Homo sapiens: one gene and its partners. The protein of the gene in region 5 purifies or fractionates together with the protein of the main gene of each other region. This does not show direct contact. Each region holds a gene or a part of one and is shown on either strand. Other genes may lie near its edges.

The links.
Region 1: the proteins of YJU2 (region 5) and PLRG1 purify together in Homo sapiens (affinity purification with mass spectrometry; 4 studies listed by BioGRID and IntAct, with this or other methods). This does not show direct contact.
Region 2: the proteins of YJU2 (region 5) and SYF2 purify together in Homo sapiens (affinity purification with mass spectrometry; 3 studies listed by BioGRID and IntAct, with this or other methods). This does not show direct contact.
Region 3: the proteins of YJU2 (region 5) and BCAS2 purify together in Homo sapiens (affinity purification with mass spectrometry; 3 studies listed by BioGRID and IntAct, with this or other methods). This does not show direct contact.
Region 4: the proteins of YJU2 (region 5) and PRPF19 purify together in Homo sapiens (affinity purification with mass spectrometry; 4 studies listed by BioGRID and IntAct, with this or other methods). This does not show direct contact.
Region 6: the proteins of YJU2 (region 5) and SERPINB4 purify together in Homo sapiens (affinity purification with mass spectrometry; 3 studies listed by BioGRID and IntAct, with this or other methods). This does not show direct contact.
Region 7: the proteins of YJU2 (region 5) and ISY1 purify together in Homo sapiens (affinity purification with mass spectrometry, with the first as the bait; 3 studies listed by BioGRID). This does not show direct contact.

Annotation. Positions count from the first base shown.
Region 1 is NC_000004.12:154,539,849-154,544,173, forward strand, and holds part of PLRG1 (pleiotropic regulator 1), read right to left. Parts: intron 2,432-4,325; coding exon 2,339-2,431; intron 1,087-2,338; coding exon 937-1,086; intron 848-936; coding exon 746-847; intron 206-745; coding exon 103-205; intron 1-102. UniProt on the Homo sapiens protein: Involved in pre-mRNA splicing as component of the spliceosome. Component of the PRP19-CDC5L complex that forms an integral part of the spliceosome and is required for activating pre-mRNA splicing.
Region 2 is NC_000001.11:25,221,937-25,226,261, forward strand, and holds the end of SYF2 (pre-mRNA-splicing factor SYF2), read right to left. Parts: intron 3,165-4,325; coding exon 3,066-3,164; intron 1,496-3,065; coding exon 1,330-1,495; 3' UTR 340-1,329; downstream 1-339. UniProt on the Homo sapiens protein: Involved in pre-mRNA splicing as component of the spliceosome.
Region 3 is NC_000001.11:114,574,291-114,578,615, reverse strand, and holds part of BCAS2 (pre-mRNA-splicing factor SPF27), read left to right. Parts: intron 1-1,857; coding exon 1,858-1,928; intron 1,929-2,864; coding exon 2,865-3,026; intron 3,027-4,325. UniProt on the Homo sapiens protein: Required for pre-mRNA splicing as component of the activated spliceosome. Component of the PRP19-CDC5L complex that forms an integral part of the spliceosome and is required for activating pre-mRNA splicing.
Region 4 is NC_000011.10:60,892,878-60,896,971, forward strand, and holds part of PRPF19 (pre-mRNA-processing factor 19), read right to left. Parts: intron 1-4,094. UniProt on the Homo sapiens protein: Ubiquitin-protein ligase which is a core component of several complexes mainly involved pre-mRNA splicing and DNA repair. Required for pre-mRNA splicing as component of the spliceosome.
Region 5 is NC_000019.10:4,249,616-4,253,940, reverse strand, and holds part of YJU2 (splicing factor YJU2), read right to left. Parts: intron 2,915-4,325; coding exon 2,770-2,914; intron 1-2,769.
Region 6 is NC_000018.10:63,636,532-63,639,605, forward strand, and holds the end of SERPINB4 (serpin B4), read right to left. Parts: intron 2,810-3,074; coding exon 2,654-2,809; intron 1,593-2,653; coding exon 1,188-1,592; 3' UTR 728-1,187; downstream 1-727. UniProt on the Homo sapiens protein: May act as a protease inhibitor to modulate the host immune response against tumor cells.
Region 7 is NC_000003.12:129,150,640-129,154,964, forward strand, and holds part of ISY1 (pre-mRNA-splicing factor ISY1 homolog), read right to left. Parts: intron 1-4,325. UniProt on the Homo sapiens protein: Component of the spliceosome C complex required for the selective processing of microRNAs during embryonic stem cell differentiation. Required for the biogenesis of all miRNAs from the pri-miR-17-92 primary transcript except miR-92a.

The DNA of each region.
Region 1 (4,325 bases), on a different chromosome or scaffold from region 5:
ACACAATACAGAGCAAGAGTCATCATGAATATTAAAAGTATATGTATAATAACATGGATTCTGACATGAATATTCTGTAAACTTGAAAAGTATCGATCATACCTGTAATAATTTGTGGTTCTGCAGCCTGACATCTCACTGTAGCAACTGCATTTGTATGTCCAGATAATGTGTGTACACTGGCTTTAGTTCTCACATCCCAAATCTATAAAAACACAATAGACATATTAGGAAAGAGAATAGGTATTCATTATCTCAAGAAGATAACTGGATCAATTCAAGGCTGAAAATTTACTACATAACTAGTGCCTGAATATAATAAAGAAAATGCTTAAGTGAAAGATAATGATTTACAAACTGGAGGACGAATATAAATAGGAGACAACTTGCAAGAATTCTAAAAAGCTAAAAGATCAGGGTACTGAAAATCTAAGAATGAGTATGATGGGACTACTTTTTAAGACTACTGAATGAAAGAACTAATGGACAATAGTTGTTACAGAATGGAACGTGAGAATATCACATTTCAGGGGCAGGGCACTAATAACACTAACATGGTGAGGCCATACAACTGAAGACTAAGGTGGAAAAAAATGCAAGTTAAGAAACTTAGGGACTAGGATATTGATGACTCAAGACAGCTATCTTTAATTCTCTATCAATCAATTGAAGACACTGAAACCGAAAGTGCACCCTACAAGATGCAATATATTTACAGATAAATACACAACTCTATCCCATTTACCCGTGCAGTTGAATCTCGACTACAGGTTACCAACACATCGATTGTCGGGTGCAAATCCAAACCATACACTGCACTTAAATGTCCATGATAATGCCGTATAACCTAAAGACAAAGCAGGAAAGTTAAAACTTCTAGAATTAGAAAGATAAATAGTAGTTCACAATGTTTTAAATCCTTAACTCCAAACTTACCTTATTGTATTCGAGATCCCAGCATTTCACTTGTTTGTCTTCTCCACAAGAGAACAGATATGGGCTCCTTGTGCTTACTATCACGCCCCGCACAGTACTAATATGCCCAGTCAATGACAGTTTTAATTTGCCACTAGCCAAGTCCCAGATCTGCAATCAAAGAATATTTATTTTTTTCTTTCACTGGTTACTGCAAAACAAAATTTTAGAAACCTGATTATTAAAACTGAGCTTTCAAAGACAAAAGGAAAAAGATAACAAATACGTAAAAATAAAAAATTTTGCAAAATGACTCCCCTCCAAATAAAAGCAAGAAAAAAACTGGCATGCTCAAACTGGAAAAATATTTGCAATTAGATGACAAAAGGTTAACCTTCTTGTTATATAAATGATATCTTTGATAATAACAGTAAGAAAAGTATGGTATTAAATTAACTGAGGCTGGCAACAACTTAAAGAAATCCTAAAAGCAGCAAATACAGATATGAAAAAGTTCACACTCATTAGAAATTTCATACAAAGTTTTTTAAAAAGATTAAGTATCCATTTTTGCTTACCATATTAGATATTTGTAAAGGAATGTACAACCAATGTGCTGAAAAGGATCCTCTCATACACTGCAAGTATCGATTCACCCATTTGGAAAGTAATTTGTACTTTGGGTATCAGCTTCAAAAATATTTGACCCATTTATTCCATTTATGGAACTCTACCATAACAAAATAATTTAAAATACAGAAAAAGTCTTATATACAAAACTTAACAGCATTACTTGTAATGGTGAAAATCAGACTAAAAACTCTACTGTCCAGTAATAGGAAAACAGATTACAGACTATCTAAATGATATAATATTATGCAACCACTTTAAAAGATGGTAAATTTTTCACAGGAATATGCCTTTGATACAACGTTAAGTGAAAAAAGCAAGATACAAAATTACATACTAAGAATGATTTTTTAAAAGATACACACACAGGAAAAGAGCTTAGAAGTGAAGGTATTGATACTTACAGAAATAAATACTAAAACGAAACTTATCCAAATATCTAACAATGGTAGGATTATATACAGGTCTATGTACTTTCCTAATTCTCTATATTTTCCACATTTTCTATGAATGAGCATGCTCTTAATTTTGTAACCAGTTGGAGAGAACAATGTAAGTATAAAGGAATTAGTGGTAGGTATTCAGTAGGTAAAGAAAAAGTGGTTTAAATAGCACTTTTCAAACAGATATTTATTTAGAACACTTATTAGTATAAATGATAAATTTTACTCCTTATTCAGGTCTAAAATAACAGAGGAACTGCAATAGCAATTCCTGCCACAGGAAATAATAACTGATTAAACTTACATGACAAACACAAAGTCATGTTTATTTTTTCTTCCTTCATTATTACCTTTATAGTTCTGTCAGCAGATCCAGTAACAAACCACTGATTTCCAGGTTCCACAGCAATACATCGAACCCAGCCAAGATGCCCACTGATAACCTGTATAAAACAAAGTAGAATGGGCAGGCCAACGTAGAAGTTAAAATGTATTTAAGTTTAACTGCAGCCCGAGTTTGAATTGCCCTCCCATCTTCAAATCATAAAAGATAATGACTATTACATTTTACAATAATATGAAATTATCTTCAGTGAGTTAATAGTTAACACAAATTGTGGCTCATCTATATAATGTAAACTACTCAGTAATAAAAAGGAATACATTATTAATACTTGCAACAACTTCAATGACTCACAAAGTATTAAGCTGTGTGAAGGAAGCCAGTCTCAAAAAGTACATATTGTATGATTCCATTTATATGACATAGTCAAAAAGACACAGCTAAACCAACCTAAGTGTCCATCATGAGGTGAATGGATAAATAAAATGTGGTACATACACACAATGGAATACTATTCAGCCATAAAAAAGAATGAAATTCTGTTATTTGCAACAACATGGATGGAACTGGAAGATACTATGTTAAGTGAAATAAGCCAGGCACAGAAAAACAAATATTGCGTGCTCTCTCTCATATACGGGAGCTAAAAAATAAATGATCTTCAGAGTTGAATGATGGCTACCAGAGGTTGGGAAGAATAGTGGGGAGGCAGAAGATAAAGAAGAGGTGGATCACGGGTACAAAAATAGATAAAGGGAGTAAGATTTAGTGTTTGGTAGCACTAGTTTGGTTAGCTAGTTTGGTAGCACTAGTTTGGCTAGTTAGCTTGGTAGCACAATAGAGTGACTACAGTTAAGAGTAATTTATTGTATATTTCAAAATAACTAGAAGAGTAAAATTGGAATGTTCCTAATACAAAGAAATAATATCCCAATTACCGTGATTTGATCATTACACACTGTATGTTTTTCTTTGTTTTTTGTTTTGAGATAGGGTGTCACTCTGTCGCCCAGGCTGGAGTGCAGTGGCGTGATCTTGGCTCACTGCAACCTCCGCCTCCTGAGCCCAAGTGATCCTCCCACTTCAGCCTCTGGAGTAGCTGGGACTACAGGTGTGCTCCACTACACATAGCCAATTTTTGTATTTTTTTGTAGAGGCGGGGTTTTGTTGTGTTGCCCAGGCTGGTACTGAACTCCTAGGCTCAAGAGATGCGCTTGCCTAGGCCTCCCAAAGCACTGGGATTATAGGCATGAGCCACCATGCCTGGCCTACACACTGTATGCTTGTATCAAATTTGATATGTAGCCCATAAATATGCACATCTATTATGTTAGCCATAAAAATTAAAAATAAATTAGAACTGAAATTATTGAAAAAAAATAAGACAACTATAGTGATAGAAAACAGATCAGTGATTGTCAGAGGTGAAGGAAAGTGTAACTACAAACGAATAGCACAAGGGTGTTTTTTGAGGTGGTGTAACATCTATATCCTAATTGTGGTAGTGGTTACCCAAATCAATACATCTATTACAATTCATTAGAGCTGTATGTCAAACAAAAAGGCTCTTACTGTACAATCATTTGAAAAATGAAATTTTTAAGATACATATTAAATTATGTGTAGCTGTACATTTCCTACTATGTACATTTTCTTTTTTAAAATTTTCTGTTTTTAATTTTTGTGGGTACACAGTAGAAATGTATTTATGGAGTACATGAGATATTTTGGTATAGGCAAGCAATGCAAAATAAACAGTATGGAACACTTCACGAATCTGTGTTATCCTTGTGGAAGGGCCATGCTCATCTTCTCCGTACCATTCCAATTTTAGTGTATGTGCTGCTGAAGTTAGCATGCATGTCCATTTTCTTTTAGATGATACACTCTGAATCATTTTCATTTATTGTAGTTGAAAGAGTAACTGGTAGGCCCAAATAAATTTCTTTATATGGTGTTTTTCCCCTTCACCTTCAAACTAAATACTTTGAACA
Region 2 (4,325 bases), on a different chromosome or scaffold from region 5:
TTTCGAGACAGAGTCTTGCTCTGTTACCCAGTCTGGAGTATAGTGGCGTGATCTCGGCTTAGTGCAACCTCTGCCTCCCAGGTTCAAGCAATTCTCCTGCCTCAGCCTCCCAAAGTGCAGGGATTACAGGCACCCACCACCATGCCCAGCTAATTTTTGTATTTTTAGTAGAGATGGGACTTCACCATGTTGATCAGACTGGTCTCAAACTCCTGATCTTAAGTGATCCACCTGACTCAGCCTCGCAAAGTGCTGGGATTACAGGCGTTGAGCCACCACACCCGGCCAATATTTGAAATTTTCTGAGCTTCAGATTTCTTTGAATTTAAAATATCCCAATTAGATATTTAGCATTTAATTCAACATAGAGAAAAAATAACAACCTTTCCCTCTGGAGTTTTATAAAAATAAATCTATTGCAGTGATAATAGTATTGTGGTCATTTAAGTCTTTATCTTTCAGAGATACATACTAAAATAATTATAGATGAAATTATATATCTAGTATATGCGTCAAAATAAGAGTCATGAAGAAAGTAAATGGAAATAAAGATGAAGCAGGACTGGCCATGAGTTAATGATTGTTGAACAGGGTACTGGGTATATGGGACTCACCAGGGGTATTGGGTGTATGGAATTTCCCATAATAAAATATTCTTTCAGTGTTTGTAGAATGGAAGCATGTATGTATATAAACAAATGTATATATACAAATGTTTGTTTTAAATGATAGACTAAAAATGTTAGAAATTCTAATCCCAAGCATTTATTGCTTTTTAAAAAGGGAACTGTACATGATCAGATCATGGAAGGATAGCTCCACTCCTCCCCGACCTTGGTCACAGGCCGCCATGAGGAGGGACTGCTCCAGTCCTCCGGTGGCCACTGCCATCTTCCTCATCACTGTCCTTAGCTTTGGAGTACACAACTCCAAGTGGCCCGAGTCTAGACTCTATCAAATTCCACACTGATAGCAACAATGACTGCATCTGATGTGTGCTGCTGGCAATCTTAAGCCCAAAATGCTTCAAAGATTAAACAGCCATATACATTTAAAATACATAGAAAAATAATATAATTAGAATGTATACAAAGTAGATTACAAAACAACTTCACTACAAGAAATACATCTTATATCCAAGCACAAAAATGTGGAAATATACATGAAAGGATATACGTTTAAGAAACCACATTTTTATTTCTAAATGCTGAGTGAGAAGGCATGGACTACTAAATTCTGGATTACTGATAAAATTTCAAAAAGAACTTGATTTTGCTAGCAGAAATTTTTACCCCATTCTCAAGCTTCTATAAACAGTTCTTGAAGGGATTAGACAGCTGTTCCTCTTTCCAAATTCTGTTTAATTTCAGCTGTGTATTTCCCATAGAATCTTTCAGCTTTCTTGTTGAATTTGGCATTCCTTTCATTAATGTAGTCGATATCTGCATCATCATTATAAGGACGTCTCCGGCTATATTTGTCTCGTTTTTCAATCCTGGGGAAAGAAGAAAATTTACAAAATTCAAAATTGCCTTCTCTTTTGATCTTAATAAAACACAACCAAACAGGAATATAATCACGTTTAGAATAGCACATGTTGTGAGGGCTAGAGGAAGCCAGGAGAGTTTTCATCAAGTTAAAGTTGAAACTGAATTAATGGCACAACTCAGAATATGAACTGTGAAATCCAGTAAATACAAATTCATCTTCAGAATGCTAGAGCGATGACTCATTGTTGGGAACTTGACTGTACTGAAGAAGATAACTATTGGCTGGGCATGGCGGCTGTAATCCCATGCCTGTAATCCCACTACTTTTGGAGGACAAGGCCTCCCAAAAGGTCCTCTGGGAGGATCACTTGAGCCCAGGAGTTCCAGACCAGGGCCTGGACAACATAGGAAGACTCCATCACTATAAAAAAAATTTTTTTGAATACATTTTCTAAAAAAGAAGATAACTATAACAATATTAAATAGGCCAGGCGCAGTGGCTCATGCCTGTAACCCCAGCACTTTGGGAGGCCAAGGCAGGTAGATCACCTGAGGCCAGGAGTTTGAGACCAGCCTGGTCAACATGACGAAACCCCGTCTCTACTAAAAATACAAAAATTAGCCAGGAGTGGTGGTACACGCCTGTGGTCCCATTTACTCAGGAGGCTGAGGCAAGAGAATCGCTTGAAACTGGCAGGTGGAGGTTGTGGTGAGCCAAGATCGTGACACTGCGCTCCAGCCTGGGCAATAGAGTGAGACTCCGTCTCAAAAAAAAAAAATTATATTAAATAATAACCACAGCTAATACTGAGCACATAATATGTGCCAGACACTTTTTTTTTTTCCTGAGACAGGGTCTCGCTCTGTCGCCCAAGCTGGAGTGCAGTGATGCAATCACAGTTCACTGCACCCTCCACTTCTTGGACTCAAGTGATCCTCCTGACTGAGTCTCCCAAGTAGCTAGGACTACAGGCACGTACCACCATGCCCAGCTAATTCCTGTATATTTTTTGTAGAGAAAGGGTTTTGCCATGTTGCCCAGGCTGTTCTCAAAGTCCTGGGCTCAAGCAATCCTTCTGCCTCAGCCTCCCAAAGTGCTAGGATTATAGGCAGGAGCCACCACGCCCAGCCCAGACACTATTCTTAATACTTTTCATGTATTAACTCCTAAAATATATTTTCATTCTGCTCTACCTAATAGTCGCCTCTATCAGTATTAAGAAACACAAACCTAAGCGAGGAACATTTACTACAACATTCTTGCTTCTTCAAATCAAACAGGGGAGTGGTTAAAGTAAAATCCTTAAAGAAGGATCATTTTTTTTAGACCTTTCCCCTTCAATATTAACAATTCAGTTTCATCAACATTCTTCATCTCCATTCCAAATCAGATATATTCAACCCACACTTGCTATCCATCCCCAAGCCACTATAGACAGGTCAAAAATTAGCAAGTATAACTGTACAATTTCTATCTTTTGAATTCATTCTAAGCACGTCAGATATAGGTGCATATTCTAAGTGCATTTTGTCATGAAGTATTTACAACGTCAAGCTGCTCTACTGAATACTTACTGTTTTTCCAGATCTATGACCATCCTGTCAATTTCCTCTGTGGAAGGCACATGTGTTCCATGAAGAAGACTATTGGATGTTGGGAAAAACTCTTCTCCACTGAAAAGGCAGCAAAATGAACTTACAGTAACACTATAAATGCTCCATTTTCAAATTTCAAACTAAAGTACCATACATGATAAGAAAGTATACACATACATTTACTGTGAGATCCTACTTTAATTTTTTTTTAAAAAAACATACAGGCTGGGTGCAGTGGCTCACATCTGTAATCCCAGCACTTTGGGAGGCCAAGGCAGGCGGATCGTTTGAGGTCAGGAGTTCAAGACCAGCCTGGCCAACATGGCAAAACCCAGTAGAGACTGAAAATATAAAAATTAGCCGGGCGTGGTGACACACACCTGTAGTCCCAGCTACTTGGGAGGCTGAGGCAGGAGAAGCACTTGAACCCGGGAGGTGGAGGCTGCAGCGAGCCAAGATCGCCCCACTGTGCTCCAGCTTGGGCGACAAAGTAAGACTCCGTCTCAAAAAAAAAAATTTTTTTTAATTAAAAGAATTAAAATAGGACCATGTGGAGGCCAGGCGCAGTGGCTCACGCCTGTAATCCCAGCACTTTGGGAGGCTGAGGTGGGCGGATCACAAGGTCAGGAGTTTGAGACCAGCCTGGCCAACATGGTGATACCCCATCTCTACTAAAAATACAAAAATTAGCTGGGCGTGGTGGCAGATGCCTGTAATCCCAGCTACTTGGGAGGCTGAGGCAGGAGAATTGCTTGAACCCGGGAGGCGGAGGTTGCAGTGAGCCGAGATCACGCCACTGCACTCTAGCCCAGGCGACAGTGCAAGACTCTGTCTCAAAAAAAAAAAAATAGGGCCATGTGCAGTGGCTCACACCAATAATCCCAGCACTTTGGGAGGCCAAGGTGGGCACATCACCTGAGGTCAGGAGTTCAAGACCAGCCTGGCCAACATGGTGAAACCCCATCTCTACTAAAAATACAAAAAAATTAGCCAGGCGTGGTGGCGGGCACCTGTAGTCCCAGCTACTTGGCAGAAGAATCACTTGAACCCAGGAGGCGGAGGCTGCAGTGAGTCAAGATTGCACCACTGCACTCCAGCCTGGGCGACAGAGCGAGATTCTATCTCAAAAAAAAAATAAAAATAAAAATAAAAAATAAAAAATTACAGAATTGAAAGGAACCTAAGACATCATCTACGCCAACACCTTCACTGTACAGATCAAAGAGCCAACAGGCAGAG
Region 3 (4,325 bases), on a different chromosome or scaffold from region 5:
GTGGTTGAGGAAGGCCTCTCAAAGCTAAGATGAGACTACTCCATGAGCAGGGATTGCCCTTGCCGCTCCATGAACACTGGCTTAGTCTTTGGAGAGAGATGAGCTAAAATTCCAGATTTATCACTTACTGAGCATGTGAGTTAGTTAAGGGTTCCTCCTATGCTACATGGCTCAAGACTACTTATACTGCATTTTTATACTGCCTCGTGTTTAATTGGCTGTTTACTCCTTGTCTGTCACTGCAGAATTTTCTAGCTAGAATGCCCTGGTTTTTTTTTTTGCAGGAAACTAGGTAACTACATTTTCTTAAGATTGTGTGTAATTTAGCAGTAGCCCCTGCAAAATACTTTCTGCAGAAAGAAATGCTTAATACGAAATTTTTTGTTTTTTGTTTTTTGTTTTTTTGTTTTTTTGTTTTTTTGTTTTTGAGATGAAGTCTCACTCTGTTGCCAGGCTGGAGTGCAGTGGTGTGATCTCAGCTCACTGCAACCTCCACCTCCCAGGTTCAAGCAATTCTCCTGCCTCAGCCTCCGAGTATCTGGGATTACAGGCACGTGCCATCACGCCCAGCTAATTTTTGTATTTTTAGTAGAGATGAGGTTTCAACTTGTTGGCCAGGATGGTCTTGATCTCTTGACCTCGTGATCCACCCACCTCGGCCTCCCGAAGTGCTGGGATTACAGGCATGAGCCACCTCGCCCGGCCTAATAAAAACTTTTAAACATTCATGCAGGCTTCTGTAAGGCCTTTGATACTTATTTAGTCTAATTGTTAAGATAGTTGAAACCCTCAGAAAATTAAAATTACATGGAATAACCGAAGTATTACTACAAAGAAATATTTTAAGCAGTTCTTTATCCTCAGGGTAGGAAATGTGCAGAATGGAAATGGGTTAGGACGTTGGCCCTAAAGAGGAACAGCTATACTACATTTACTTGCGAACAGTAAAATTGCTAGAGAAGATAGTGAATATAAAGAAAAGACACTTTGGGAGGCTGAGGCAGGCCGATCACCTCAGGTCAGGAGTTCGAGACCAGCCTGGCCAACATGGTGAAACCCTGTCTCTACTAAAAATACAAAAATTAGCCAGGCATAGTGGCAGATGCCTGTCATCCCAGCTACTCGGGAGGCTGAGGCAAGAGAATCGCTTGAACCCGGGAGGCAGAGATGAGCCAAGATCGCGCCATTGCGCTCCAGCCTGGGGGACAAGAGCGAGACTTCGTCTCACAAAAAAAAAATAAATAAATAAATAAATTATTTCTTGGATTTCTGGAGGCTGGAAAGTGTACGGTTCACAGGCTGCATCTGGTGAGGGCCTTCTTGCTGGTGTGGACTTGGTGTACAGTCCTGAAGCAGCACAGGGCATTACATGGCAAGGTAGGGGCACACAAGAGAAAGACAAACTGGCTTTTATAACATACCCACTCTGGTGATAACTTATTAACCCATGAATGGATTGAGCCTTCATAACCCAATCACCTCTTAAAGACCCCACCTCTTAATACTATTACATTGGGGATTAAGTTTCTGTATGAATTTCAGAGGGGACAAACATTCAAACCATAGCACTGTCGAACTGATTCTGATATGCTTCTGGAATTAAGAACCACTGGTTTAGGATTAATCCTTTTCTCTGTGGGCTCCTTAATACATGCCACTTTTCCTGAATGTGAAGTGAGTGAGTGAGTGTGTGTGTGTGTGCTTCAGATTCTAGAGAGCATTTAACTCAGAGAAGAATTAGGGAAAGGTAAACAATTCATTATAATGGGTAGTGTAGCTTAAATCTGTTCTTTGGTGATTGTTAATTTTTAGTTGTCAACATGATCTTAGAAATCTTTTTTCTGATTTACACATCAGACTGACATAATGAGAAATGAATTTGAAAGACTGGCTGCTCGACAACCAATTGAATTGCTCAGTATGAAACGGTAAGAATATTAAAATGGAAATTAAAATTTAGTTTGTAGTAACTCAGTAATGAGCTGAGATTTGTGAAGAATGTATTTGCTGGCTAATATTGGCAGTGTTGGCCGGGTGTGGTGGCTCACACCTGTAATTCCAGCACTTTGGGAGGCCGAGGCTGGTGGATTGCTTGAATCCAGGAGTTTGAGACCAGCCTGGGCAACATGGCAAAACCCCATCTCTACCAAAAATAATTAATAATAATAATAATAATAATAATAAACGTACCTGGGTGTGGTGGCACGCACCCGTGGACCCAGCTACTTGGAAAGCTGAGGTAGGTGGATCGCTTGACACCCCCCAGGAGATGGAGGTTGCAGCAAGCCGAGATTGTGCCACTGCACTCCAGCGTTGGGGACAGAGGGAGACCCAGTCTTGAAAAAAAAACTATATATATATATATATAGAGAGAGAGAGAGAGAGAGAGAGAGGCAGTGTTGAAGGACTGACTGGGTAGTATGAAGAGAGAATAGAAGGAGTCATATCGCTTCTCATTTTTTTCTCTACCGGCGCATGGGTATGTTAGTGGATGGGTGGGTGTGAGTATTTTACAAAAATGGTAGCAAACTTTTTTGTCTACTGCTTTTTCCCCTTAATATATTACTGACATCTTAATATTATTAAATATTCTTCAGTAACATTTAATAGCTAATGTAACAATCTTTTATGTGAATGTAATGTTGCTTATTTAACCAGTTCACATTGAAGTGAACATAATGGTGCTAAATCATATTTGTAAATTGATTGTTAGCATATATCGGTTTCTTATTATTGCAAGGTTTACATCCTTAGTCTTCTGTAGTTTTTATACTATATGGAGACTCATGGGACATTCTACTGAGAAGAGATGTAAAGGCTTGGCAGTATAGATGGTTTTATTTTATTTTGTTGTTTAATTTCAGATATGAGCTTCCAGCCCCCTCCTCTGGTCAAAAAAATGACATTACTGCATGGCAAGAATGTGTAAACAATTCTATGGCCCAGTTAGAGCATCAAGCAGTTAGAATTGAGAATCTGGAACTAATGTCACAGCATGGATGTAATGCCTGGAAAGTATACAATGAGTAAGAACCTTTTTCTTCATCTTCTGTTTTTTTTGTTTTTTCTCTTTTCTTTCCATCTCACCCAAAGTTTTAGTACATTTTAAAAGTATGGGAGGTGCTGGGTGCAGTGGCTCATGCCAGTAATCCCAGCCCTTTGGGAGGCAGAGGTGGGTGGATTGCTTGAGGTCAGGAGTTCGAGACCAGCCTGGCCAACATGGTGAAACCCCATTTCTACAAAAAAAAAAAATACAAAAAATTAGCTGGGCATGGTAACGTGTGCCTGTAATCCCAGCTACTCTGGAGGCTGAGGCATGACAATTGCTTCAGCCTGGGAGGCAGAGGTTGTAGTGAGCCAAGATTTTGCCACTGCACTCCAGCCTAGGCGACAGAATGAGACTCTATCTCAAAAAAAAAAAAAAAAAAAGAAAAGAAAAAGAAAAGCCGGGCGCGGTGGTTTACACCTGTAATCCCAGCACTTCAGGAGGCCGAGGCGGGTGGATCACCTGAGGTCAGGAGTTTGAAACCAGCCTGGCCAACATGGTAAAACCGCATCTCTACTAAAAAAAAAAAAAAAGATTAGCCGGCCATGGTGGCGCTTCTGTAGTCACAGCTACTCAGGAGACTGGGGTAGGAGAATTGCTTGAACCTGGGAGGCAGAGGTTGCAATGAGCTGAGATTGTGCCACTGCACTCCAGCCACAGTGACAGAGCGAGACTCCATCTCAAAAAACAAACAAAAAAACCCCACAAAGTATGGGTAGGGGAAGTGTGATAAAAATAATATAGCTAGACTTTGTCTTGGGATTATGTTCTAGAACTGCAACCCATATGAAAGGCCACTATTTTGAAACCCACCTCAAAGTTCAAGAGTACTAACAGGACCTAAACCAAACTACGACATTTATTGTATAATATTGTAACAAAACTAGTTCTGAGGTCCCATTTGCAGAGCACCACTTGATAGAATGTTATCAAGCGTTGCTTAAACAGTTGATTCTCATTAGTCATGGGTTATGTTCTTTAAGTCCTATGAACACTGAATTAGCAAATACTGTACCATTTCTCCTAGGGGAAATATATACATATTCATGTGCACACATATACATATCTCTCAAATAGATTATAATCTTAAATCCTAAAATAAACTCATCCTGGTAGACTTCTTTATTTTATAAAAGAGAAAACAAAGTTGAGAAATGTAAAGTAACTTTCTTGAAACTGCCCCACTAACAGATCCCAGACTTGGAACTTGAACTTCATCCTCTGGTTATTTCTGTATGAGAGCTAAAACAAGAAGGCAAAGCACCTCCTTGTTCATCCT
Region 4 (4,094 bases), on a different chromosome or scaffold from region 5:
CTCTGAGACAACTTTTATTACCTGAGAGACTCTGTAGTGCACTTCCTCCCCATCCCCCCACATAACTTGTGTCACCACCACCCCCTAGAAGCCTTAGGCCCCTACTCCCTTCTGCAGTTCAGGATGCCATAGAGTCATGTGTCACATAATGACATGTCAGCGACGGACCACACAAACACTGGTCCCATAAGATTACAGTGGAGCTGAAAAATTCCTATCACCAAGTGATGTCATAACCATCATCATGTCACAATGCAATGCATTATTCACGTTTGTGGGGATACAGGTATAAACAAATCTACTACACTGCCAGTTGTATAAAAGTATAATATAGCTAGGCGCGGTGGCTCACGCCTGTAATCCCAGCACTTTGGGAGGCCGAGGTGGGCAGATCACGAGGTCAGGAGTTTGAGATCAGCCTGGCCAACATAGTGAAACCTCATCTCTACTACAAATACAAGTACAAAAAAAAAAAAATTAGCCAGATGTGGTGGCACACGCCTGAAGTCCCAGCTACTCGGGAGGCTGAGGCAGGAGAATCACTTGAACCCAGGAGGCGGAGGTTGCAGTGAGCCAAGACCATGCCATTGCACTCCAGCCTGGGTGACAGAGCAAGACTCAATCTCAAAAAAAAAAAAAGTATAACATAATTAGGTACAGTACGTTACTGGTTTATGTACAGACATATCTCAGGGACATCGCTGGTTCAGCTCCAGGCTACCAATAAAGCAAATATTGCAATAAGGCAAGGCACACAAATTTTTTTGGTTTCTCACTACATATAAAAGTTATGTTGGCCAGGCATGGTGGTTCATGCCTGTAATCCCAGCACTTTGGGAGGCCGAGGCAGGTGGATCGCTTGAGTTCAGGAATTCAAGACCAGCCTGGCCAACATGGGGAAACCCCGTCTCTACTAAAAATACAAAAATTAGCCGGGTGTGATGGTGCCCACCTGTGCTAGAACCTGGGAGGTGGAGGTTGCATTGAGCCAAGATCGTGCCACTGCACTCCAGCCTAGGCGACAGAGCAAGACTCCATCTCAAAAAAAAATGTTATGTTTACACTATACTGTAGTCTATTAAGTGTGTAATAACATTATGTCTAGTAAACAATGTACATACCTTAATCAAAAATACTTTATTGCTAAAACATGCTAACAACCATCAGACACTTCAGTGAGTTGTCATCTTTTTCCAAGACCCACCAGCAGGGTCTTGCCTTGATGTCGATGGCTGCTAACTGACAAGGGTGGTGTTTGCTGAAGGCTGAAGTGGCTGTGACAATTTCTTAAAATAAGACAACAAAGAAGTTTGCCACATCATTTGATTCTTCCTTTGACAAAAGATTTCTCTGTGATGGATGCTGTTTGATAGCATTTTACCCACAGTAGAACTTTCAGAACTGGAATCAATCCTCTCAAATTCTGCACCTGCTTTATCAATTAAGTTTATGTAATATTCTAAATCCTTCATTATCATTTCAACAATGTTCACGGCATCTTCACCAGTAGAAGATTCCATCAAGAAACCACTTTCTTTGGTCATCCCTAAGAGCTCCTCATCCATTAAAGTTTTAACATGAGATTGCAGCAATTCAGTCCCATCTTTAGACTCCCCTTTGGATTCTAATTCTCTTACCATTTCCTCCACATCTGCAGTTACTCCCTCCATGGAAGTCCTCAATCCCTCAAAGTCATCCATGAGGGCTGAAGGGTTGGAATCAATTTCTTCCAAACTCCTCTTTATGTTCATAGTTTAACCTCCTCCCATGAATCACAAATGTTCTTAAGGGCGTGTAGAATGGTGAATCCTTTCCAGGTTTTCAATTTACTTTGTCCAGATCCATCAAAGGAACCACTATCCAGGGCAGCTATAGCTTTATAAAATGTATTTCTTAAGTAATAAGACTTGAAAGTCAAAATTACTCCTTGATCCATAAGCCGAAGATTGGATGTTGCAGGCATGAAACATCTCCATCTGAGCTTTAGGGTAATGAGGTGCACTGTAATATTTTGAAAGGAATCTATTTTTCTGAACAGTACCTCTTAATGGGGGGCTTAAAAAATATTCAGTAAACCATGCTGTAAACAGATGTGTTGTCATCCAGACTTTGTTGTTCTATTTACAGAGCACAGGCAGAGTAGATTTAGCCCCACCTTCTTAAGGGCCCTACAATTTTCAGAATGCTAAATGAGCTTTGGCTTCAATGTAAAATCACCAGCTGCATTAGTCCCTAACAAGGGAATCACTCTGATCTTTGCATCTTGGAAACCAGGCATTGACTTCTCTCTAGCTGTGCAAGTTCCAGATGTCACTTTCTTCCAATAGAAGGCTATTCCGTCTACATTGAAAATCTGTTGTTGAGTGTACCCACCGTCAATGATCTTAGCTAGGTCTTCCGGATAACTTGCTGCAGCTTCTACAACAGCATCTGCTGCTTCACCTTGTACTTTTCTGTTATGGAGATGGCTTCTTTCCTTAAACCTCATGAACCAACCTCTGCTAGCTTCAAACTTTTCTTTTGTAGCTTCCTCACCTGTCTCAGCCTTCACAGAATTCAAGAGTTAGGATCTTGGTCTGGATTATGGTTTGGCTTAAAAGAATGTTGTGGCTGGTTTGATATTCTATCCAGACCACTGAAACTTTCTCCATATCAGCAATAAGGATGTTCTGCTTTCTTATCATTTGTGCGTTCACTGGAGTAGCACTTTTAATTTCCTTCAAGAATTTTCCTTTGCTTTCATAACTTGACTAATATTTGGTGTTGAGGCCTAGCTTTTGGCCTATTTGGCTTTTCACATGCCTTCTTCACTAAGCTCAATCATTTCTAGCTTTGGATTTTAAGTAACAGACATGGGACACTTTCTTTCACTTGGACACCGAGAGGCCATAATACGGTTATTAACTGGCCTAGTTTCAATATTGTTGTGTCTAAGGAAATAGGGAAGTCTGAGAGGGAGAGAGATGGGGAACGGCTGGTGGGTGGAGTGGTCAGAACACACACAGCATTTCATTTATCAAATAAATTCAGTAACTTTTATGGGCACATTTCATGGTGCCCCCCCGCCCAACAATTACAATAGCAACATCAAAGATCACTAACGGACACAATAAATCATGAAGAAGTTTGAAATACTGTAAGAATTACCAAAATTTGACACACAGACACAAAGTGAACACATGTTGTTGGAAAAATGGTACTGACAGACTTGCTTGGGGCAAGGTTGCCAAAAACCTTCAATTTATAAAAAGCAAAGTATCCATAAAATACAATAAAGCTAAGTGCAATAAGACAAGGTATGCCTATACTATACTTTTTTTGGTATTAAATATACTCTTCCCACTTATAAAAAAAAGTTAACTGTAAAACAGCACCAAGCAGGCCCTTTCAGGAGGTATCCGAGAAGAAGGCATTATCATCATAGGAGATGACAGGTTTATGCATGTTGGTGCCCCCGAAGACCTTCCGGTGGGAAAAGATGTGGAGGTAGAAGACAGTGATGTTGGTGCTATGGTTAGGCTTTGTGCCGCCACCCAAATCTCATCTTGAATTGTAGTGCCCATAATCCCCACGTGTTGTGGGAGGGAGCCAGTGGGAAGTAACTGAATCATGGGGGTGGTTACCCCCATGCTGTTCTCATGATAGTGAGTTCTCACGAGATCTGATGGTTTTATGAGGGGCTTTAGCCCCTTTGCTCAGCATTTGTCTCTCCTGTTGCCATGTAAAGAAAGACATGTTTGCTTTCCCTGCTGCTATGACTGTAAGTTTCCTGAGGCCTCCCGAGTCACTGTGAGTCAATTAAACCTCTTTCCCTTATCAATTACCCAGGCAGTTCTTCATAGCAGTGTGAGAACGGACTAATACAGTTGGTGATCCTGATCCTGTGTAGGCCTAGGGTAATGTGTGCTTGTGTCTTAGTTTTTAACAAGAAAAGTTTAAAAAGTAAAAAATAAAAATAAAAAAATTAGAAAAAAGCTTATAGAACAAGGATGTAAAGAGAGACAATATTTTTGTACAGCTGTACAATGTGTTTTAGTTTTAAGTTAAATGTTATTACAAAAGAATCCATTTTTTTAAGTTTATAAAGTAAAAGT
Region 5 (4,325 bases):
AGCTACTCTGGAGGCTGAGGCATGAGAATCACATGAACCTGGGAGGCTGAGATCACACCACTGTACTCCAGCCTTGGCTACAAAGTGAGACCCTGTCTCAAAAAAAAAAAAAAATCTCCAAGGTTCTGCACATGTTGTGATTTCTGCCCTTTGTATTTATTAACACCTTTTCTTTGATTATAAATCACATGTACAAATATGTATACAGCATGCCCCTGTTTTTGTTTATTGAATAGAGAGGCTAAATACACCCTGGTATCTTAAATTACACACTGGAACAGAAAAGTGACATTAGCAGAAAAACTGAAATCTACCTTTGGTCTAAATGCTAATAGTAACACTATGTTTTTTATTTTTTTGGGGACAGGGTCTCGTGCTGTTGCCCAGGCCGGAGTGCAGCGGCAGGATCATGGCTCACTGCAACCTCAGCCTCCCGGGTTCAAGCAATCCTCTCACCTTAGCCTGCCGAGTAGCTGGGACTACAGGTATGCACCATCACACCTGGCTAATTTTTAAATTTCTTTTTGGTAGAGACAGGGTTTCGCCATGTTGCCCAGGCTGGTCTCTAACTCTTGGACTCAACCGATCCTCCTGCTTTGGCCTCCAAAGTGCCGGGATTACAGGCATGAGCCACTGCACCCAGCCACAGCCTACAATGTTAATGGTAACATTCCACCTTTAGTTTCTTTTTTTAATTAAAATTTGTGTGTGTGTGTGTGTGTGTGTGTGTGTGTGTGTGTGTAGACACGGACAGGGTCTCACTATGTTGCCCAGGCTAGTCTTGAACTTCTGGTCCCCAGCAATCCTCCTGCCTTGCCTTCTCAAAGCGCTGGGAGTAAGCCACCATGCCTGGCCCCACCCTTAGTATCTTACTGTGACAGATGTACCCTGGTTATATAAGATGCTAATATTCGGGGAAGTTGGTGAGGGGGTAGGTGAGAATTATCTGTACTATCTTTGGAACTTTTCTGTAAATCTTCAGGTATTTCAAAAAAAGTTTTTGTTTGTTTTTTTGCAGACAGGGTCTCACTCTGTCACTCAGGCTGGAGTATAGCAGTGAAATCATGGCTCACTGCAGCCTTGGCCTCCCAGACTCAATTGATTCTCCTGCCTCAGCCTCCCAAGTAGCTAGGACTATAGGCGCATGCCATCATGCCCAGCTAATTTTTATATTTTTTTGTACTGACGGGATCTCACTATGTTGCCCAAGCTGGTCTTGAATTCCTGGATTTAAGCGATCCTTCTCCCTTGACCTCTCAAAGTGTTGGGATTACAGGCGTGAGCCACTGCACCCAGCCAAAATATTATTATTATTATTAATTTATTTATTTATTTTTGAGACGGAGTCTCGCTCTGTCGCCCAGGCTGGAGTGCAGTGGCGCGATCTCAGCTCACTGCAAGCTCCGCCTCCTGGGTTCACGCCATTCTCTTGTCTCAGCCTCCCGAGTAGCTGGGACTACAGGCACCCGCCACCACGCCTGGCTAATTTTTTTCTGCTTTTTTTTTAGTAGAGACGGGGTTTCACTGTGTTAGCCAGGATGGTCTCGATCTCCTGACCTCATGATCCGCCTGCCTCAGCCTCCCAAAGTACTGGGATTAGAGGCGTGAGCCACTGCGCCCGGCCTATTTTTGTATTTTTTTTTAGTAGAGTTGGGGTTTCATCATGTTGTCCAGGCTGGTCTCGAACTCCTGACCTCAACTGATCCACTTGCCTTGGCCTCCCAAAGTGCTGATTATAGCTGTGAGCCACTGCGCCCAGCCCAAAATGTTTTTTTAATCAAAGAAAAAAAGCTTATGGCAAAAAAGTATTCAAAGAGTACTTAAGCATAGGAAGAGAAAATTTTAAGTTATCTTCAGTCTTTCCTTAAATTCTCAAGGTAACAAATAAAAGTCAAATTGCAATTTTTATTGGCTGTGTAATATTCCATTGCACGCTACTTTTTTTTTTCTTTTTGAGACAGAGTTTCATTTCGTTGCTCAGGCTGGAGTGCAATGGCGCAATGTTGGCTCACTGCAACCTCTCCCTCTCGGGTTCAAGCGATTCTCCTGCTTTGGTCTCCCAAGTACCTGAGATTACAGGCATGAGCCACCACGCCTGGCTCACTTTTGTATTTTTAGTAGAGACGGGGTTTCACCATGTTGGCCAGGCTGGTCTCAAACTCCTGACCTCAGGGGCTCTCTTTCCTGCCTTGGCCTCCCAACCTGCTGGAATTACAGGCATGAGCCACTGTGCCTGGCTTTTTTTTTTTTTTTTTTTAGTTGGAGTCTTGCTCTGTCACCCAGACTGGAGTATAGCGGTGCAATCTTCGCTCACTGCAACCTCTGCCTCCCAGCTTCAAGTGATTCTCCTGCCTTAGCCTCTCGAGTAACTGGGATTATAGTCCGCCACCATGCCCAGTAATTTTTGTATTTTTAGTAGACATGGCATTTCGCCATGTTGGCTAGGGTGGTCTTGAACTTCTGACCTCAGGTGATCTGCCCGCCTTGGCCGCCCAAAGTGCTGGGAGTACAGGTGTGAGCCATGCCCAGCCTGCATGCTAATTTGTTCTTCTCATCCCTTATTATTATCTATCTAGGTTGCTTCTGTCTTTTTGCCTTTATTTAGAATGCTGCCATGAACATCTCCCCCAAACTGTTGTCTGTTTCTTGGGGATAAACTGAAATGAGATTCCCTGGATGGAGAGGATTGGAGTTAAGGAACCCCAGGGCCCGCCCTGATCTGAGGTGTGCTGGGGGAGAGGGACCGGCCTGGCCGGCCGTCTCACCTACCTTGAAGGTGATCTCTGCCAGGCAGCGCGTGCACTTGATGTAAAAGCGGAAGATGGGCAGGCCCAGGTAGACCTCGTTCTGCACCGTCTCCTTCCGAGCATTGAATTTCTTCCCCTTGTAGATGTATTCTCCGCACGTCTTACACCTGCGGGGCAGCATGTAGGGATGTGAGCTGTCTTGGGACGCTGGCTCCCACTGGCAGGCTGTCCCTGCGGCATCCTGCAAGATCACTGCTTGCTTGCCTCCAGCAACGGGGAGCTCCCTCCTTCAAGAGGCAGGCTGCCCCACCCTGTGTCCAAATTTCCTCTACCTGAGAACTTCGTGTTCTCATTCATATCTTCCTGGGGCTCAGTCCAAGGGTCGCCTGCTTGGGAAGCCCCCTGAGTAGGTGAGGCCTGCCTGTCATGCACTCCCAGAAGCAATCTTTGTGCTTACGGGGCACCCCACCCTCCAGGAGGAAAGATGCCACACAGAAAAATGCTGCCCCACCCCCCTCTTCCCCTCCTACTCCGGGCTCTGCTCCCCAGCCCAGCACGCCCGCCTCCTGTCTGATCCTGCAAACACCCCCAGCTCAGTCCCAGCTCAAGGCCTCTGCTCCTACAGTCTCATGGCCGGCGACACCCTTCATCCTCAGACCTCAGCGCCACCAGTATTTTGCCTGATGTCACCGTACCCCAGCTACCTATAGCCCTCCCTCCTGCGCCACTGCCCCAGGGGCTCTCTCCTGCCTGACTTCGGGGGCCCGTGCACCTGCCTGACTACCACTATTCTCCACTTCCCATTAGACTGTGGGCTCCATGAGGCCAGGGACTTTGTTCCTGGCGCTCGGCACAGACCCTGGCACACAGCAGGTGCCCAATAAATGAGTGTTGAATGAATAAATGAATGAATGAGGGGGAGGAGTAGACAGGCCAACAACACATGGGCATGAACCGAATTTCACTGACCCAGATGTCTCTTTCCTCGTTAGGTGCGTGATTTCAGATATGCTAGAGCATGAAAAGGTATGGGGTTGAGAGTTGGTGAAATACAGTAATTCTGAAGTGCTACAAAAGGCAAGATCTGGGCACCGTGAGGGGATGATGGAGGCCTCCCGGAGGGGTGAGATTGGAGCCATGACCTATGGCAGACAAGAGGAGCCTGCCATGTGTAAGTAGAAGGAGAAGGCCAGGTGCGGCAGCTCACGCCTGCAATCCCAGCACTTTGGGAGGCCAAGGAGGGCAGATCACCTGAGGTCAGGAGTTCGAGACCAGCTTGGCCAACATGGTAAAACACCAACTCTACTGAAAATACAAAAATTAGCCGGGCGTGGTGGTGCACGCCTGTAATCCCAGCTACTTGGGAGGCTGAGGCAGGAGAATCGCTTGAAGCCAGGAGGTGGAGGTTGCAGTGAGCTGAGATCACGCCACTGCACTCCAGCCTGGGCAACACGGCAAGACTCTGTCTCAACAAAAAAAAAAAAAGAAAGAAAGAAAGTAGAGGGAGAGAGTTCCAAGCAGGGGCAGCAGTGTGTGCAAAGGCCCTGGGGTAGGAACGAGCTTGGCTGTTGGAGGAGC
Region 6 (3,074 bases), on a different chromosome or scaffold from region 5:
TTCTTTCTTCTAACTTTATCCTTTCTCCCTAGTATCTTATTTTTGCTTTTAGCTACAACTACCATATTTATCCCAATGACTCTAAAGTATTTATATTGAATATCACAAATTTAGAGCTTCAGATCATATTCTGTTTCTGAGATTTAGACTAATATCTTCAAGTGCCTGCCAGGCAAATCCATTTGAATATTAAAAGTACCTTAATTCATCAAGTACAAATTTAAACCCAAAGTCTTTTTTTCTCTCAGAAACAAGATATTCTTCCATCCATCCAGTCAGATAGGTCAGCAACTTAGATGTCTTTCTGTAACTATTATTTCCTAAATAATTCCCCCAGGCTCTTTCTTTCTCTCCATTTCCACTCCCAATACTCTAATGATTTCCTAATTTATATATGGTAACCACACTGTTCTTTCCTCGCATCCATTGATATCAGCGTAGCCAGAGATGTATTTTCTAGATGTGGATATGATAATTTTATGCCCCTCTTTGACAAACAACCATCAAAGCCTGTAATGAGTTTCTTATCCCTTTAGCATAAAATAGGAAGTTCCTATGTGGTTTACAAGGCTCCTCCTGTTCTGGGATATGCCTTCTACTCCAGGCTCATCATGAACTACTCTGTTTTTAATTTTCCTTTATATATGATTAATATATCTCTAAATTATCTTTCCTATGTGTAACTGGACACTTGCCCTTTCCAGAGAGAAAACAGGTAAAGCAAAAATGATTTTATGTCATTATTTTATTGATGATGTGTTTTATAGAATCACAAAATTTAGAAACATAAGAAGGATTTAGGTATCACCTAAATTCAAAGAAATGTGTGTTTCTAGGTTGCTAAATTTGAAGAGAAAGTATGATTTGGTTTGGTTCATTTAAAACAGGTCAGAAACAGAATTATATTTCAAATTTAGAAGACACGGTATTAAATGATTCATCTTATCTTGGACATTTTTCCTCAAGGGAAATTTTTCTGGAAGGAAAAGTACATTTATATGTGGGCTTATTAAGAGAAAGAGAGAAAGGCATGCTATTTTAATCATTAAATTCTTGATGATGACTATCATCATCAAGATGAGATAGAAAAGAAATATGAGCCAAGAGAATCTGTTGTTGCCAGCAATCAGTTTACCAGAACACCTCTAGGTGAACATTTTCTAAATGGAGTGACAGACTAATTGCATCTATGGGGATGAGAATCTGCCATAGAAGAGGATGCTGTTGGTCTTATTTTGCCTTATGAAGAATAGGAAAGGGTGATTACAACAGAACTCTTCATTAGTTGAAGGAGATGATAATTCGACTACTACTACAGCGGTGGCAGCTGCAGCTTCCACTCCCTCCTCAGTGACCTCCACAAAGGCCTTGTGTAGGACTTTAGATACTGAGAGACCGTGGCTCCAGGTCATGCCTGAGAGGTCTGCATCCCCATTGAAGATATTCACCATTCCCATGGTTCTCAACGTGTCCTTGAGGTCATAGCTCTCTTCCATTTTGAACCGAGGTAAGTGTAAATCGACACATGTCTCTCTCATATTCTGCAAACTTGTCCATTCCATCAATTTCTCAGCAGTGAGTTTCTCTTCAAGCTATACAAATGGAAAAAAGAAACTGATATGACTAACTGTCGATCTCTAATACACCTTAACAATGAATTGACTATGTGGAGATTCGTTATTTTGGCAATAAATGTGAAATACAGAAGGTTCACTTTAATAGACATTATTATTCTAATAGGTAAAATATGAGTCCTGAATATATAAATACATTGGGTTATATGTGTATATGTATATACATGTATGTAAAAACAGAATCATGTTTTTACGTATATGTATATGTGTACATATGTATGTATACAACTGTATGATACACATGTAAAATATGATTACATTATTTTGTACACAATGAACTGTATGTATCACTATTTCTTGTGCCAACAGCCTACTACATGTGTCAATTTTTAATAGGCTCATCATATTTTTCTGTATACATTATTTAGTACACATTGCAATTATTAAATTGTAATTCCCTAAATTCCTAAATTTGTATTCCCTTTTCTACTCGGCCTATTTGTAAACTTTCCTCACATTGGTATATATTTCTCCCAGTCAAGTTTAAATTGCTGCATAATAATATCATCAAATTGATATCCAATGCATGTAACTCTAATAAATTAATCATTAACTAAGCCATAGATGGAATTAAATCATAGATGGGAATTGAACAATGAGAACACTTGGACACAGGAAGGTAACATCACACTCTGAGGACTGTTGTGGGGTGGGGGGAGGGGGGAGGGATAGCATTAGGAGATATACCTAACGCTAAATGACGAGTTAATGGGTGCAGCACACCAGCATGGCACATGTATACATATGTAACTAACCTGCACATTGTGCACATGTACCCTAAAGCTTAAAGTATTATAATAATAATAATAAAAACAAACAAACAAACAAAAACTAAGCTTTCAGTTTGTGTCAGGCCCTATGCTCAAATATTTGTAATATGAAGGTGAGTCATCATTCCTCATTTAGAATTTTTCATCATTTTGAGGCAACTCGGTCATAAGCTTTTACCTTGTTTAAACTTGGTATCTTTGGAAAAATGTCCGGCAGTAGAAGGAAGAGTTGTAGATGCAAGTTCTTACCTTCTGCAGACCATCGATTTCATTTGGCAGCAGCACAATCATGCTTAGATCTTTGCCTTTGTATGGTATTTCCAGGACCTTGGCCTGTACATCCTCCAGCAAGGCAAAATTAAAGGAATTGTATTGCCTCATCATCTGTACAGATTTGTATGTATTCTGCAATAAATCAATGTGTCCAACAAATAACACGTGAAACACAAGACAAAAAAGATAATATTATTGAGATAGCAACACATCCTTCTTCTTCTAAGAAATAACCCAGGAATTCCATGAGTTAGAAACAATAGTTTTTCAGGTATTCCTAACTAAATAAAGTTATAAGAGTAAAACAACAAAATAACAGACATGAACAATTTTTATTTTTTACTTATCATGTTACATTCCATCAGAAATGTTTAACATTCCATGTATTAACATATTA
Region 7 (4,325 bases), on a different chromosome or scaffold from region 5:
GGGGCGGAGCTTGCAGTGAGCTGCACTCCAGCCTGGACGCCAGAGCAAGACTCCATCTCAAAAAAATAAATAAATAAAATTAAAATTAAAAAGATTTATACCTAAGTTATTTCTTGTGTTTTGGTGCTTTTGTAAATAGCACTTTAAAAAAATGTTGTATTTCCAGCTGTTCAATGTTAGTATATAAAAATATAATTTTGAAGCTGAGCATGGTGGCTCACACCTGTAATCCCAGTACTTTGGGAGGCTGAAGCAGGCAGATATCACTTGAGCCCAGAAGTTCCAGACCAGCCTAGCCAACATGGTGAAACTCTGTCTCTACTAAAAATACAAAAATCAGCCAGGTGTGGTGGTGGATGCCTGTAGTCCCAGCTACTCGAGAGGCTGAGGCAGAATAGCTTGAACCTGGGAGGCAGAGGTTGCAGTGAGCCGAGACTGGGCCACTGCACTCCAGCGTGGGTGACAGAGGAAGACTCTGTCTCAAAAAAAAATATATATATATATAAATATATAAAATATATAAATATATAAAAATATATATAAATATATAAAAATATATATATGAATATATATGGGGTGTGTGTGTATATATATAATTCTGTATATTGAACTTCTTTTCTGTGATCTTGATAAATTCACTTATCCATTTTAGAAGTCTTTCTGTAGGTTCCTTGGGATTTTCTACATAGAAAATTATGTAGGATTTTAGGTGGGCATGGTGGCTCATGCCTGTAATCCCAGTACTTTGGGAGGCAGAGGCGGGTGGATCACCTGAGGTTGGGAGTTCGAGACCAGGCTGGCCAACATGGCGAAACTCTGTCTCTAGTAAAAATACAAAAATTGGCCGGGCATGGTGGCACATGCCTGTAGTCCCAGCTACTCAGGAGGCTGAGGCAGGAGAATCGCTTGAACCCAGGGGACAGAGGTTGCAGTGAGCCGAGACTGCACCACTGTACTTCAGCCTGGGTGACAGAGCGAGACTCCATCTCAAAAAAAAGAAAATTATATAGGATTTTCTATGTTACAATAAAGACAGTTTTACTTATTATTTTCTAATCTTTATGCCTTTTATTTCCTTTTTTTACTTTACCGCACTGGCTAGGATTTCCAGCATCACGCTGAATATAGTGGTGAGAGTGGATGTCTTTGCCTCGTTCCTGATCTTAAGAGGAAAGCATTCAATCCTTCACCATTAAATAGTTTATTGGCTATGGGTTTCTTATAAGTACTTTATCAGGGCCGGGTGTGGTGGCTCATGCCTGTAATCCCAGCTCTTAGGGAGGCCAAGGTGGGTGGATCACCTGAGGTTGGGAATTCGAGACCAGCCTTGCCAACATGGTAAAACCCTGTCTCTACTGAAAATACAAAAATTAGCTAGGCGTGGTGGCTGGCACCTGTAATCCCAGCTACTCGGGAGGCTGAGGCAGGAGAATCACTTGAACCTGAGAGGCGGAGGTTGCATTGAGCTGAAATTGCACCACTGCACTCCAGCATGGGTGACAAGAGCAAAACTCCGTCTCAGAAAAAAAAAAGAAGTGCTTTATCAGGGTAAAAAGTTCCCTTTTATTCCCAGTTTGCTGAGTTCTTATCATGAATAAACGTCTAATTTTGTCAAATACTTTTTCTGCATCTACTTAGATCATACAGTTTTTCTTCTTTGGAATGACACAGTGAATTAACTTATTTTTGAATGCTGAATCTACTATGTTTTTCCAGAATAAATCCTCCTTAGTTGTGATGTATTATCCTTTTTATACATTGCTAGGTTTTGTTTTTTTTTTTGAGACGGAGTCTCGCTCTGTCGCCCAGGCTGGAGTGCAGTGGTGCAATCTCGGCTCACTGCAAGCTCCGCCTCCCGGGTTCCAGCGATTCGCCTGCCTCAGCCTCCCAGGAAGCTGGGACTACAGGCACCTGCCACCACGCCCGGCTAATTTTTTTGTATTTTTAGTAGAGACGGGGTTTCACCGTGTGTTAGCCAGGATGGTTTCGATCTCCTGATCTCACGATCCACCCACCTTGGCCTCCCAAAGTGCTGGAATTACAGGCGTGAGCCACCGCGCCCGGCCATACATTGCTAGGTTTGATATGCTAATGTTTCATTAAAGATTTTTGTCTATATTCATAGGAAATATTGTCAGTAGTTATTTCTCATAATATCTTTTTCTGATTTTAGCATCAGGGTAATGCTGATACTAAAATTCACAAAATGAGTTACAAAGTGTTCCCTCTTCTTCCATTTTCTTGAGGAAACTATGTGGAGTTGGTATTATTTCTTCCTTAAATATTTAGTAGAACTGACCAGTGAAGCCATCTGGGTCTGGAATTTTCTTTTAGAAAGGTATTTAGAAATGAATTCAATTTCTTTCCATCTTTTTTTTTTTTTTTTTTGAGATGGACTGTCGCTCTGTCACCCAGGCTGGAGTGCAGTGGCCCAATCTTGGCTCACTGCAACCTCTGCCTCCTGGGTTAAAGTGATTCTCCTGCCTCAGCCTCCCAAGTAGCTAGGATTACACGCATGCGTCACCATGCCTGGCTAATTTTTGTATTTTTCATAGAGACAGGGTTTCACCATGTTGGCCAGCCTGGTCTTGAACTCCTAACCTCAGGTGATCCACCCACCTCCACTTCCCAAAGTGCTGCAGTTACAGGCGTGAGCCACGGTGCACAGCCCCAATTTCTTTAACAGATATAGGACTACTCAGGTTTACCATTTCTTTTTGAACTGTGTCTCTAAACAGTAGAATTATTGACACTGTAGTTTATTTAGGATAATTATTTGTAGGAGGCTTAGCACATCCCTGGCCTCTACCCACTATGTGCCAGTAGCACCCTTCCAGTTGTAACAATCAAAAATTTCTTCAGGGCTGGGCGCAGTGGCTCAAGCCTGTAATCCCAGCACTACGGGAGGGTGAGGTGGGCAGGTCATGAGGTCAGGAGATCGAGACCATCCTGGCTAACATGGTGAAACCCCGTCTCTACTAAAAATACAAAAAAAAATTAGCTGGGCATGGTGGTGGGCGCCTGTAGGCCCAGCTACTCAGGAGGCTGAGGCAGGAGATTCGCTTGAACCCGGGAGGCAGAGGCTGCGGTGAGCCAAGATCATGCCACTGCACTCCAGTGTGGGCAACAGAGCAAGACTCTGTCTCAAAACAAAACAAAACAAAACAAAATGAACTATTTCTCGGCCAGGCACTGTGGCTTACACCTGTAATCCTAGCACTTTGGAAGGCCGAGGAGGGTGGATCCCCTGAGGTCAGGAATTGAAGACCAGCCTGTTCAACATGGTGAAACCCTGTCTCTACTAAAAAATTACAAAAATTTGGCTGGGCGCCATGGCTCACGCCTGTAATCCCAGCACTTTGGGAGGCCGAGGCGGGCGGATCACGAGGTCAGGAGATCGAGACCATCCTGGCTAACACGGTGAAACCCCATCTCTACTAAAAATACAAAAGATCAGCCAGGCGAGGGGGTGGGCGCCTGTAGTCCCAGCTACGCGGGAGGCTGAGGCAGGAGAATGGCGTGAACCCCGGGGGGCGGAGCCTGCAGTGAGCTGAGATGGCGCCACTGCACTCCAGCCTGGGTGACAGAGCGAGACTCTGTCTCAAAAAAAAAAAAAAAAAAAAAAATTAGCCAGGTATGATGGAGGGTGCCTGTAATCCCAGCTACTCGGGAGGCTGAGGCAGGAGAAATTGCTTGAACCCAGGGAGGTGAACCCAGGGAGAAATTGCTTGAACCCAGTGCAGTGAGCCGAGAACTCGCCACTGCACTCTAGCCTGGGTGACAGAGCAAGACTCCATCTCAAAAAAAAAAAAAAAAAAAAAAAAGGACCACTTCTCTTAAGTGAGCTTTGGCAGTTTGTGTCTTGTAAGGAATTGACCTATTTCATCTAAGTTGTCAAATTTATGGGCATAACATTGTCTGTAATATTTCCTTATTATCCTTTTAATGTATATAGATTCTATAGTAATATTCCCAATTTGGTTCCTAATATTCTTAATTTGTGTATATTTTTTCTTGGTCAGTCTGACTAGAAGTTTATCAATTTTATTGATCTTTTTTTTTTTTTTGAGACAGAGTCTCGCTCTGTCTCCCAGGCTGGAGTGCAGTGGCGCGATCTCAGCTCACTGCAAGCTCCACCTCTTGGGTTCATGCCATTCTCCTGCCTCAGCCTCCCAAGTAGCTGGGATTACAGGCGCCTGCCACCACATCCAGCTAATTTTTTGTATTTTTAGTAAAGACGGGGTTTCACCGTGTTAGCCAGGATGGTCTCGATCTCCTGACCTCGTCATCCGCCCGCCTCGGCCTCCCAAAGTGCTGGGATTACA